Homo sapiens: one gene and its partners. The protein of the gene in region 2 interacts with the protein of the main gene of each other region in a pairwise test. Each region holds a gene or a part of one and is shown on either strand. Other genes may lie near its edges.

Region 1 (3,652 bases), on a different chromosome or scaffold from region 2:
CATAACCCCTGTTTAGTGAGCACCTGTGCTTGTTGATGAAAATCATAACCCGTGTTTAGTGAGCACCTGTGCTTGTTGATGAAAATCATAACCCGTGTTTAGTGAGCACCTGTGCTTGTTGATGAACATCATAACCCGTGTTTAGTGAGCACCTGTGCTTGTTGATGAACATCATAACCCGTGTTTAGTGAGCACCTGTGCTTGTTGATGAACATCATAACCCGTGTTTAGTGAGCACCTGTGCTTGTTGATGAACATCATAACCCATGTTTAGTGAGCACCTGTGCTTGTTGATGAAAATCATAACCCGTGTTTAGTGAGCACCTGTGCTTGTTGATGAAAATCATAACCCGTGTTTAGTGAGCACCTGTGCTTGTTGATGAAAATCATAACCCGTGTTTAGTGAGCACCTGTGCTTGTTGATGAAAATCATAACCCGTGTTTAGTGAGCACCTGTGCTTGTTGATGAAAATCATAACCCGTGTTTAGTGAGCACCTGTGCTTGTTGATGAAAATCATAACCCGTGTTTAGTGAGCACCTGTGCTTGTTGATGAAAATCATAACCCGTGTTTAGTGAGCACCTGTGCTTGTTGATGAAAATCATAACCCGTGTTTAGTGAGCACCTGTGCTTGTTGATGAAAATCATAACCCGTGTTTAGTGAGCACCTGTGCTTGTTGATGAACATCATAACCCGTGTTTAGTGAGCACCTAAGACTCTTAAGAGCTCTGCTCAGCCTTTTCAGCCCTTGAAGCCACTGACGATGTAAGTGAACTTACTGTCCCCGGACTGGGATGATTGACGCAGCATCGAGGGGGTCCCGAGGCTGATGGATGGGGCAGTGAGGCTCTAACTCAGGCTCCCAGTTGTCTCAGAGTCCCTGAACCCAAGGCTGCCTGCATCTCTTGGCCTGTGGCCTGCGTCCTCATTGCAGGGTGTCAGGGTTTGGAGGTGTCTCAGAGATGAGTCCACTCCCTCTCATTTTAATGGTGAGGAAATGCAGACCCGGGGGGCCAAGGAAGCAGGTGGCTATTCCCAGGGCAGGGCTGGAATCCAGCATCTCACTCCCCGGCCACCACCTTCACCATGAGCCCACTCTGTGTGCATACAAGCCCCTGAGATTATTTGAGTCTCTTTGTCCAGGAATGAGTAAAGCCATTTTCCTACCATGAGTGGTGCTGTATGCTGTCTTATGTGTGTTAATCATGAAGATGAGCCGGCAGTAGCCTGCAGTGCAACACACACCTTCCCCCTGCCCGGAGCTGTCTTTGGGAGTCTAGCTGCCTCATACAGCCATCTGTTTGGAGCCTGCACAAGAAACTAAAATGAGGCTGGATGTGGTGGCTCATACTTGTAATCTCCCAGCACTTTGGGAGGCTGAGGTGGGAGGATTACTTGAGCCCGGGAGTTGGAGGCTGCAGTGAGCCGTGTTTGTGCCATTGCACTCCAGCCTGGATGACAGATCAAAACTGTCTCAAAAAAAAAAAAAAAAAAAAGAGAGAGAGAAAGAAACGAAAATGAGAACTATTACATCAAAGCATTTACCTTAAAAAATAAGTATGCATGATCAGGAACCTGTGTTTTCAGAGGGATGTCCTGGTGGGTGGGAGGGAGGAACTGGAGAGTTTTCCATCTGTAACTTCCCTGACTGTGATAAAACCCTCTTCCCATCAGAGTCATTCAGGAGAGCAGGAAAGAAAAGGCCATCCCTGTGGATGTCGCGCTGCCACAGAAGTCCAGCGAAAAGGCGGAGTTGGCCTCATCCAGCAGCAAGTTAGGGCTGAAGCCTGCGAGTCCTGGGCCTCCAAGTGCTGGGCCCTCGATGAAGAGTGACGAGGATAAGGATGATGGTGAGAAGCTTCTGGAATGATCCTCAGCCTAAGGTCAAGGGCGTGGCTCTGTTCCCTCGGGAGACCTTCCCTGGGAAGGGGCTCAACATCTACACAGGCCCTTCAACCTCAGTGATCAGTGTTGCAGTTTGTTCAAAATTGTAATGTACCCAACATTGGAGGTTCAGGTTTGCAGGGTGGATGTGGCTGTCAGTGTGAGTTTCCTTCTGTGAGTCTTGTCCTCCCCCTTCCCATCCCCTTTTGCCTCCCTGTCATTTCACCCTCTGGCGGGGCCCTCATTGTTAGTGTGGGAAGCTCCTGGGGAGGGGGCAAGAGTCCTGCAGAAACTGCACATTTGATCAGGTGACTTCCTGTGGGGAGGCTGCAGGGCTGCCATGGGTACTCTCTGTGGCACCCTGGCCACGTGGTGGTCTTGGTTGTGCAGGGAGGCTGCCAGGCTGCTGTGGGTATTCTCTGTGGTGCCCTGGCCGCCTGGTGGTCGTGGATGTGCGGGGAGGCTGCAGGGCTGCTGTGGGTACTCTTTGTGGTGCCCTGGCCACGTGGTGGTCGTGGTTGGAGAGGTGGACGATCACTCTATGCCTGCTTCGGTTTCCAGGAAGGAAAGTTTCTCATATGTTGGTTTACCTGCTTTGGGGGCCCTTGGAGGTTGCCGGTTGCTTTTCCTAGATCAGCACCTTGCCAGGTTAGAGAAAGAAACATCTCAAATGGTAATCCTTATCTTCAGAGATGTTTGTACAGGATACAAACGGCCTGGCCTTACCCATTGTTACCAAATAGACTTGGCTTTACAGGGACCATCAGGAAAATCAGGAGGCAGGGTAAGAGGGCAACCCACACTTGATTTCAGATCTGGAATGCCTGGCCCCTAACTGAGGCTGCGTCTGTGCAAATGAGGCTTTCCTGCAGGACAGATGTTTGCCTGGTTAAGGGAGCCTCCTGTGTAGAGAGATGATGTGGGAGGAAGAGTGTTTTACTGTCCCCTAGAATGCAATGAGAAACATAGGAGGATACGGCCATCCCCAAAACTGGCTTTTGAATCAATCATTGCCAATCAGACACCATGTAGATGGGTTCAAAGATCCTGATGAAATCTTTTCGGGACTGCTGAATATTCCATTTGAAAAAACAATTCTTCTTTTCTAAAAATCTAGTAACAGGGACAATAACAGAAGCCGAAGAAACTGAGGACTGACTGAGACGCATGAAGAAGTGGAGATTGTCAGAATTATCCAAATGAAATGGTACAGCAGGTGCACTGTTAACAGTGTGATGGAATGACCACCCAAAGAGAAAAAAATAAAGGTATTTTGAAAATTGCTTCTCGTCCGATGTTGCTTATTCATTGCTATATTTTTATCTTAGGAGAGAGAAAGCCTGTGGGGTAGGAGAGTGGGAACCTGAACTTTCAGTTTTTAATGGCACTGCTTGTCACTAATATTAACACTATGGGGGCTCACAGCATGGGCTCAAGGTGGTGTCCTCGAGGTCTTCTTTTCAGAAGGCAGGCTGCACTTTCACCAAGAGTGGGCTGCCACACAGACACAGGCGGTTCAAGACTCTGGCATTTGGCTTTGCTAGGACTCAGCCGTGCTGCGAGGGAGGAGCAGCGTCTGGATCTGGATCTGAGAGGCCCCAAAGCATAGGCCGTAGCTGCCTGAGAGCCCCTCATGCAAGGCAGTGCGCTCAGTCCCAGAGTGGCCGACAGATGCTCACAGGCACGCGCAGGCCGGCCCAGGGCAGCCCACGGATCTTGGAGGCTCCGTTTTCTCACCTCAAAAATATGCATTCTACCCAGGAACTG
Region 2 (3,652 bases):
CAGCACTTTGGGAGGCAAAGGCAAGCAGATCATGAGGTCAGGAGTTGGAGACCAGCCTGGCCAACATGGTGAAACCCTGTCTCTACTAAAAATACAAAAATTAGCTGGGCGTGATGGCGGGCACCTATAGTCCCAGCTACTCAGGAGGCTGAGGCAGGAGAATCGCTTGAGCCAGGGAAGCGGAGGTTGCAGTGAACTGAGATCACGCCATTGCCCTCCACCATGGGTGACAGTGCGAGACTACGTGTAAAAAAAATTTAAAAATTAAAAAAAACACAACCATTCTCTTCAGTCCTATTCCCACACACCTAGGAGCTACAGTGAACATGAAACATGCTGAAGTAGCCAAAAGCTATGCAAAACAAAACTATCGTGGATTTAGTATGCGTTCTATGCAATGCTGGAGCCAAGACAGACTTTGCCTCAGTGTGTACAGCAACATTAAAACAGCAAGTCAAAGAAACACTGTTCGCACATTTAATTAAATATCAGTTTATGTTTTATTATGAAGACAATAAAGTCTCAAGGTTATGTTCACTTCCAAAAAACAAAAAAGGAAAAAGGCCATGCACAATGTCTCACACCTGTGAGCCCAGCACTTTGGGAAGCCAAGGTGGGAGGGTCGCTTGAGCCCAGGAGTTCCAGACCAACCTGGGCAACACAGCAAAACCTCATCTCTGCAAACAATTAAAAAATTAGCTGGGTGTGGTGGTGTGCGCCTGTTGTCCCAACTACTTGGGAGGCTGAGGAAGGAGAATTGCTTGAGCCCAGGAATTTCAGGCTGCAGTGAGCCATCATCATGTTGCTTCACTCCAGCCTGGTAACAGAGCAAAAATGTGTCACTGCACCCCAGCCTGGGCAACACAGCAAAACCGTTTTATAAAATTAAAACAAAAAAATTAGTTTGTCAATTACATGGTTCTTTCTTCCTGTTGTATAAATTCAACCATCCTGAACCTTGTTCCCACATATCTAGAAGGGACCAAATTGATACTTAGAAGAAAAATCCCATATAGTTTAAAAGAGGGGAAAGGGCTGGGCACGGTGGCTCATGCCTGTAATCCCAGCACTTTGGGATGCCTAAGTGGGTGGATCACCTGAGGTCACGAGATCGAGACCAACCTGGCCAACATGGTGACACCCAGTCTCTAGTAAAAAAATACAAAAATCAGCCAGATGTGGTGGTGGGCGCCTGTAATCCCAGCTACTCAGGAGGCTAGGGAAGGAAAATCGTTTGAACCCAGGAGGCAGAGTTTGCAGTGAGCCGAGATTGCGCTACTGCACTCCAGCCTGGGTGACAGAGCCAGACTCTGTCTCAAAAAAACAAAAACAAAAAAAGGAGGGGGAAGAACTGTTAGTAATTTGTCAGTAGTTTTTTTTCTTCTTCTTCTTCTTCTTCTGTGTTTTTGGCCAAGAAAGCTTTCCATTCATTAGTTTTTACTACTGAGTAATGTTCATACACTGTATAACCATGTCCCCTGCATAGTGGTTAAGACTGCCTGCTACTTCTGAATCCTAGTTATTTCCTTAGCAGTGGGACATGCAGCAAGCTGCTGGCACTTAACCTCACTGTACTTCAGTTTCACCTACCATGTGTAAAATACTAGTACATAACAATCCTTATTTCCTAAGGTTGCAGATTAGGTGAGATAATACAAATAAAGTTCTTAAAATAGCTCTTTGTACATAGAATGAGTTCAATACATGGTAACCATTGTTATTACTGGTGTACTAACATTGTTATTACTGGTGTACTCATTACTACAATATCTTCAGTAGATTATTCTCTTTTAAAAGTCTAGTTTTAGCCTGTAATCCCAGCACTTTGGGAGGCTGAGGCAGGCGGATCACTTGAGGTCAGGAGTTCGAGACCAGCCCAGCCAACACAATGAAACCCCATCTCTACTAAAAATACAAAAAATTAGCCAGGCGTGGTGGTGGGCGCCTATAATCCCAGCTACTTGGGAGGCTGAGGCAGGAGAATGGCTTGAACCCAGGAGGCGGAGGTTGCAGTGAGCCGAGATTGCACCACTGCACTCCAGCCTGGGCGACAGAGTGAGACTCTGTCTCAAAAAAGAAAAAAAAAAAAAGAGAGAAAAGAAAATTATAAACTGAAACATAAAGGCACTTGAAAAATCTCATTACTGGTAAAAGTATAGATGCTCGATTTACAATGAAGTTACATCCCAATAATCCCATTGTAAACTGAAAGTATCGTAATTTATGCACTTACTACATATAACCTACCAAACATTATAGCTTAAGCCTAGCCTACCTTACCTTAAATGTGCCCAGAACGCTTACATTAGTCTGAAGTTGGGCAAAACTATCTAACGCAAAGCCTACTTTATAATAAAGTGTTAAATATCTCATGTGAAAATATCATACCAGATATCCCTAGTCTGGGAAAAGATGGAAATTCTAAATGTGCTGGGTTTTTTTTTTTGAGACAGAGTCTCGCTCTGTTGCCCAGGCTGGAGTGCAGTGGCACGATCTCAGCTCACTGCAACCTCTGCCTCCTGGGTTCAAGTGATTATCATGCCTCAGCCTCCCAAGTAGCTGGGATTACAGGTGTGTGCCACCATGCCCAGCTAATTTTTGTATTTTAAGTAGATACAGGGTTTTGCCATGTTGGCCAGGCTGGTCTCAAACTCCTGACCTCAAGTGATCTGCCCACCTCGGCCTCCCAAAGTGCTGGGATTACAGGCATGAGCCACCATGCCTGGCCTGAAGTACAGTTTCTAGCAAACAGGTAGCACTTTTGCATCATTATAAAGTAAAAAATCATTAAGTCCAATCATCATAAATTGGGGCCCGTCTGTACTTTTGTTTAAATGGCATACCTTTCTTCTAGCACATTTATACTATCTCTCTTGTCCCACAGGGCCATGGACATTTTGAGACAGCCTAATAGCCACTAAGTGATAATCTGATATGGTAAAGGATTTGATGAAGTAAATGCGCAAAAGCTTGATGCTTTCCCTGCCACTCCCAGGAGGTAGGTCAGTTCAGTTTCGGAACCATCCAAGGAATTGTTTCATTCAACTAGGACCAAGCTTTGATCTTCCCAGGTGGACACCCTAGATGTCCCCGCCTCTCCCTTAACTTGGACCCAAATCCCTGGATTAGCTAATACTGAATCCATCTCCTCCAGGGGGCTGCCTCAAAACCAAACCAGTAACTGGAGATGAAATGCCTACTGCCTTCAGTAAATTATTTTTTGTACCAAACGTTGACACTACTTCATCTCCCTCTCTATAACGTTTGACAGATACTGAATCCTAAGAAGGCCCCAAAATCCTAAATACATAATCTTCTTCCAGTATAAACCAGTAATCCCTCCCTAATAACACCATATTTAGCCCAAATGGGGAGCACACATAAATTAAGACAAACAGCATACCCACTTCACCCTCACTGGTGAAGCTCCTTTTTCACGTGTTTTGGATTCCAGTTAATTGTGCAGAAACTTCTCACCCTGAGGGCAGAGCTTGCATCTGGTTCAGCTCAGCTATCCCCAAGATTTAAGCACTACAAAGTCTCTAGAGCAAATTTAGACCCTATTATCAGATCAAGAGTGCTGTAACCTCAAATCAACATTCCCCAGCTGGCTCAGAGTGGAACCTACCTCAAGGGGTCACTTAGGTAACCT
Region 3 (3,752 bases), on a different chromosome or scaffold from region 2:
GATGATGGGACGGGAGTGGGCCTCAGAGAGCATATGTCCATGCCCTCCAAGCATCATTCCTCATTAAGCCACATTAGAATTTAATCCAAGAGCCTCCTGGTGAGCAAAACCATCATATCCCCATTTAACAGATGAAGGCACTAAAGTCTAAAAATGTTAGCTGACATTGATTGAACTTCCGCTACTCAAAAGTATATGTAATTATAAGTGAAACGTGGTGAGAAAGGCTATTACTTTGACAAATGGCACCAGAATTCTTTGGAGTGTTAAGGCTCCTTTCAAAGAGGGAGACCACCCTGCTGAAGGTTTGTTTGTGTTTCTTTTTTATTGTTTTGATCTTTTTAGAAAGCTCTTTCCTTTTATGTTTAGTTGACACATAATAATTGTACGTATTTGTGATACACAGTGATATTTCAATACATGTATACAATGTGTAATGATCAAATCAGGATAATTAGCATATTCAGCATCTCAAACATTTATCATTTCTTTCTGTTGGGAACAATCAAAATCCTCTCCTCTAGCTTTTTGAGACTATACAATAAAATAGTTAACGGCCAGGCATGGTCGCTCATGCTTGTAATCCCAGCATTTGGGGAGGCCAAGGCGGGCAGATCGCCTGAGGTCAGGAGTCTGAGGCCAGCCTGGCCAACATGGTGAAACCCCGTCTCTACTAAAAATAGAAAAAAAAAAATTAGCTGGGCGTGGTTGTGGGTGTCTGTTATCCCAGCTACTCAGGAGGCTGAGGCAGGAGAATAACTTGAACCTGAGAGGCAGAGGTTGCAGTGAGCTAAGATCGTGACATTGCACTCCAGCCTGGGTGGCAGAGCGAGACTCTGTCTCACACACACACAAAAATATAAAAATTAAAATAATTAATTAATTAATGTTAACCATATTCACCCTACAGCACTGCAGACCACCAGAACCCATTCCCCCTATCTAGCTGTGCTTTTGTATCTATTAGCAACATGCTCCCCATCCTTCCTTCCGCCACTACACTTCCCAGCCTCTAATATCCACAATTCTGCTGAAGGCTTTGAGAGACAAGAGCAAACCACCAATAAAAAATGAAATATGGTCCTTTGGAAAGGACCAACCACTCTTGGTGTGACTCAGGGCAGAGGGATTCACACAACTGACCACTTACTGTCCCTACATCATTAAGATTCTCCCAGCTGATGATAAGGCCTTGGGAAAATGCCCCTAGGCTCATGCGCTCTGGAGAGACGCCAAAGGTTTACTGATGTACAGGCCCAGTCTGCTGCTAAAAGAAACTTTGGGAGGCACAGAAGCCCCAGCTAAGCTTTCACACATCAGCTTTCCCCATCCTCCTCCCCTCAGTGCCCAACACAGCTCTCCCATTCTCTCACTCCCATTGTTTCCCAAACATCCCTCCCTTCATAAAAGCTGTCTGGCTGGGAGCTTAAAATATTGCTGGACAGTAAAACCTACCCATCAGGGCCAATCCAGTCATATCTGCTCAGTCGTGCAGCACAGTAGGGGCGGGGTAGAGAAGTGGGAGGTGGGCTTTTAGGCAGCAAAGGAAAGAGACGAAAGTTGCCATTTTGCTGCTGAGCGCCAAGAGAGAAAGAGCACATATTTCTCCGTGGGACACTCCTTGTATTGGCAAGTTTTCCTTGGGTGATATTAGTTTGTAACCTTCCCCCCAATTGTTCTTTCTCAGCCTAATCTAAGGGCCATATATAGGCTTCTCCAAAAGGAAAAAGGTTGCCAATAAGATTCAGTCTTGGGCTGGGATGGCTAGACTTACACTCCAACTCTGAAAACCCTCTTCAAGTTGACCTAAGAACTGGCAGAGGTTTGGAAGGGAGAGGAATGCTGGAATAATCAGCAGGATGGGGAAACAGAGATGTCCAAACTCAAACTACAATTTGACTTCTTAAGCTCTTTTCATGTCTACAGGAATCCACAGGGACCTAAACCAAGTATTTGATATTTATGAAAAAGTTTTGTGCCCTTTTCACTCAAATTCTACAATAGAAATAATAGTCATAATTACTGAATGCTGTGGGGGTAGCGGAGGCTTCGTGCTCAGCATTTTCCATGTTGGAGCATTTAATGGAGCACAGGAAGGGATCTGGCTAAGGACCATAAAATTCCTCCTAGGAGCAGGTTCTGTTGTCTATCTATGAGAACTGCTGGCTAGTGGCTGTTCTAGAAACTAGAAAAGAGGCACTTTCCACCTGGTTACCAACCAGAGTGGTAAGTGGCCATTGAACGCTTTGGATAACTTATTAATGGATGTATATGTGTTATTCTGCCTCTTCAAAACCAGAGGAGGGCTATGCTGTAATGGGCTTAGATCTAGAAGACCAGGGCTCACAGCCTAGCTCTGCCCTCACTAGCTAAGCCCCCATCTTGGAGACTCATTTCACCTCCCAGCCTGTCTTTTTGTCTGGTAATGGGGATTGATAATGCCAAGTTCACTGGTTCTCAGACATCCATCTGGGGATCTGTCAGTTCTAGCTCAAGATGAAGGTTTCCACAACCTGTGACCAAAATGTGACAATGATAAAGTTAACAATGTAGTAAATGTTTCACCAAGTTAAGTGTGTTCAATTTAAAGGCTTGTCTTTTATTCTGAAGTTATGTCCTCTCCAGTTTTGTGGTGTTAAAATCCCCTTTTATGAAATGATGATGAAAATAGACTGTAGTTGTAGTTAGTAATTTAATAACTCTTTTTTTTTTTTTTTGAGACAGAGTCTCGCTGTGTTGCCCAGGCTGGAGTGCAGTGGTGTGATCTCAGCTCACTGCAGCCTCCACCTCCTGGGCTCAAGCAATTCTCCTGCCCCAGCCTCCCAAGTAGCTGGGATTACAGGTGCCCCACCACCGTGCCCAGCTAATTTTTGTATTTTTAGTAGAGATAGGGTTTCACCCTGTTGGCCAGGCTGATCTTGAACTCCTGACCTCAAGTGATCCTCCCACCTCGGCCTCCCATAGTGCTGGGATTACAGGCATGAGTCACCACGCCCAGCCAATAACTCTTATTTTTATGTCCTTGTTTGGCAAAATAAGGAGTTGGTATCCTTATGTTGGTCACACTAGTTTGTTATTATTATACTAGTCTGTGAAATCTAAGTCTGAGAACCACTGGCCTAGTTCACAGCTTGTTATGAGGACTGAAATAAGATACGTGAAAATGTATCACTTAGATCAAGGATACCCAAACATAAGGTGTTATTTTAATCATTACCTCTAGCCATCATTTTCTGGTGGGATGTTCCTGGCCATATATGGACACCCTGGGGTTGGAGGCTTGAACTCTATCCATTTATTTTCCATCTGTAATAGGTCTGTTCACTAAATTTTCACAAGCAAAATAAAACAGAGAATTATCTCTGAGAAAGAGAAGAGAAATAGTCTTCCTTTGGTTCAGATTTCTCCCTGCTCCCACAGAACGCTTTGCTTCTCTGATCTGACTTCCTTTAAATTTTCACTGTTAGAAGTCAGGAAACCAATACATTTCCCTTCGCAGCTCTAAAGTGTCTCTCCTTAACAGCACAGTAGGCCTGTTTCAACATCATGGGGTTGGAAAGATTGTGTCCTAAATTACAGTTTCTCTCCTTCAGTTATCACAAGAAACTGTAACTAGACATTTAAAAAAAAATACAATCTTAGCATGGCGGCTTAGAGTATAGAAAGACATGGGCTTGTTTGGCTTTGGTTTCAAAATTACTAATGAGTGGTCAGGAACGACTTCTTGTGTCATGAACATGTATCATGACACT

What was found.
Region 1: the proteins of TMBIM6 (region 2) and TEX29 interact in binary tests that used the Homo sapiens proteins (3 or more experiments, as listed by UniProt).
Region 3: the proteins of TMBIM6 (region 2) and GJA8 interact in binary tests that used the Homo sapiens proteins (3 or more experiments, as listed by UniProt).

The regions. Positions count from the first base shown.
Region 1 is NC_000013.11:111,341,081-111,344,732, forward strand, and holds the end of TEX29 (testis-expressed protein 29), read left to right. Parts: intron 1-1,675; coding exon 1,676-1,851; intron 1,852-3,002; coding exon 3,003-3,043; 3' UTR 3,044-3,168; downstream 3,169-3,652.
Region 2 is NC_000012.12:49,744,519-49,748,170, reverse strand, and holds part of TMBIM6 (bax inhibitor 1), read right to left. Parts: exon of another isoform or gene 3,629-3,652; intron 1-3,628. UniProt on the Homo sapiens protein: Endoplasmic reticulum (ER)-resident protein that confers cellular protection as an anti-apoptotic protein by limiting multiple stress-inducing pathways surrounding the endoplasmic reticulum and mitochondria.
Region 3 is NC_000001.11:147,901,233-147,904,984, forward strand, and holds the start of GJA8 (gap junction alpha-8 protein), read left to right. Parts: upstream 1-1,562; 5' UTR 1,563-1,629; intron 1,630-3,752.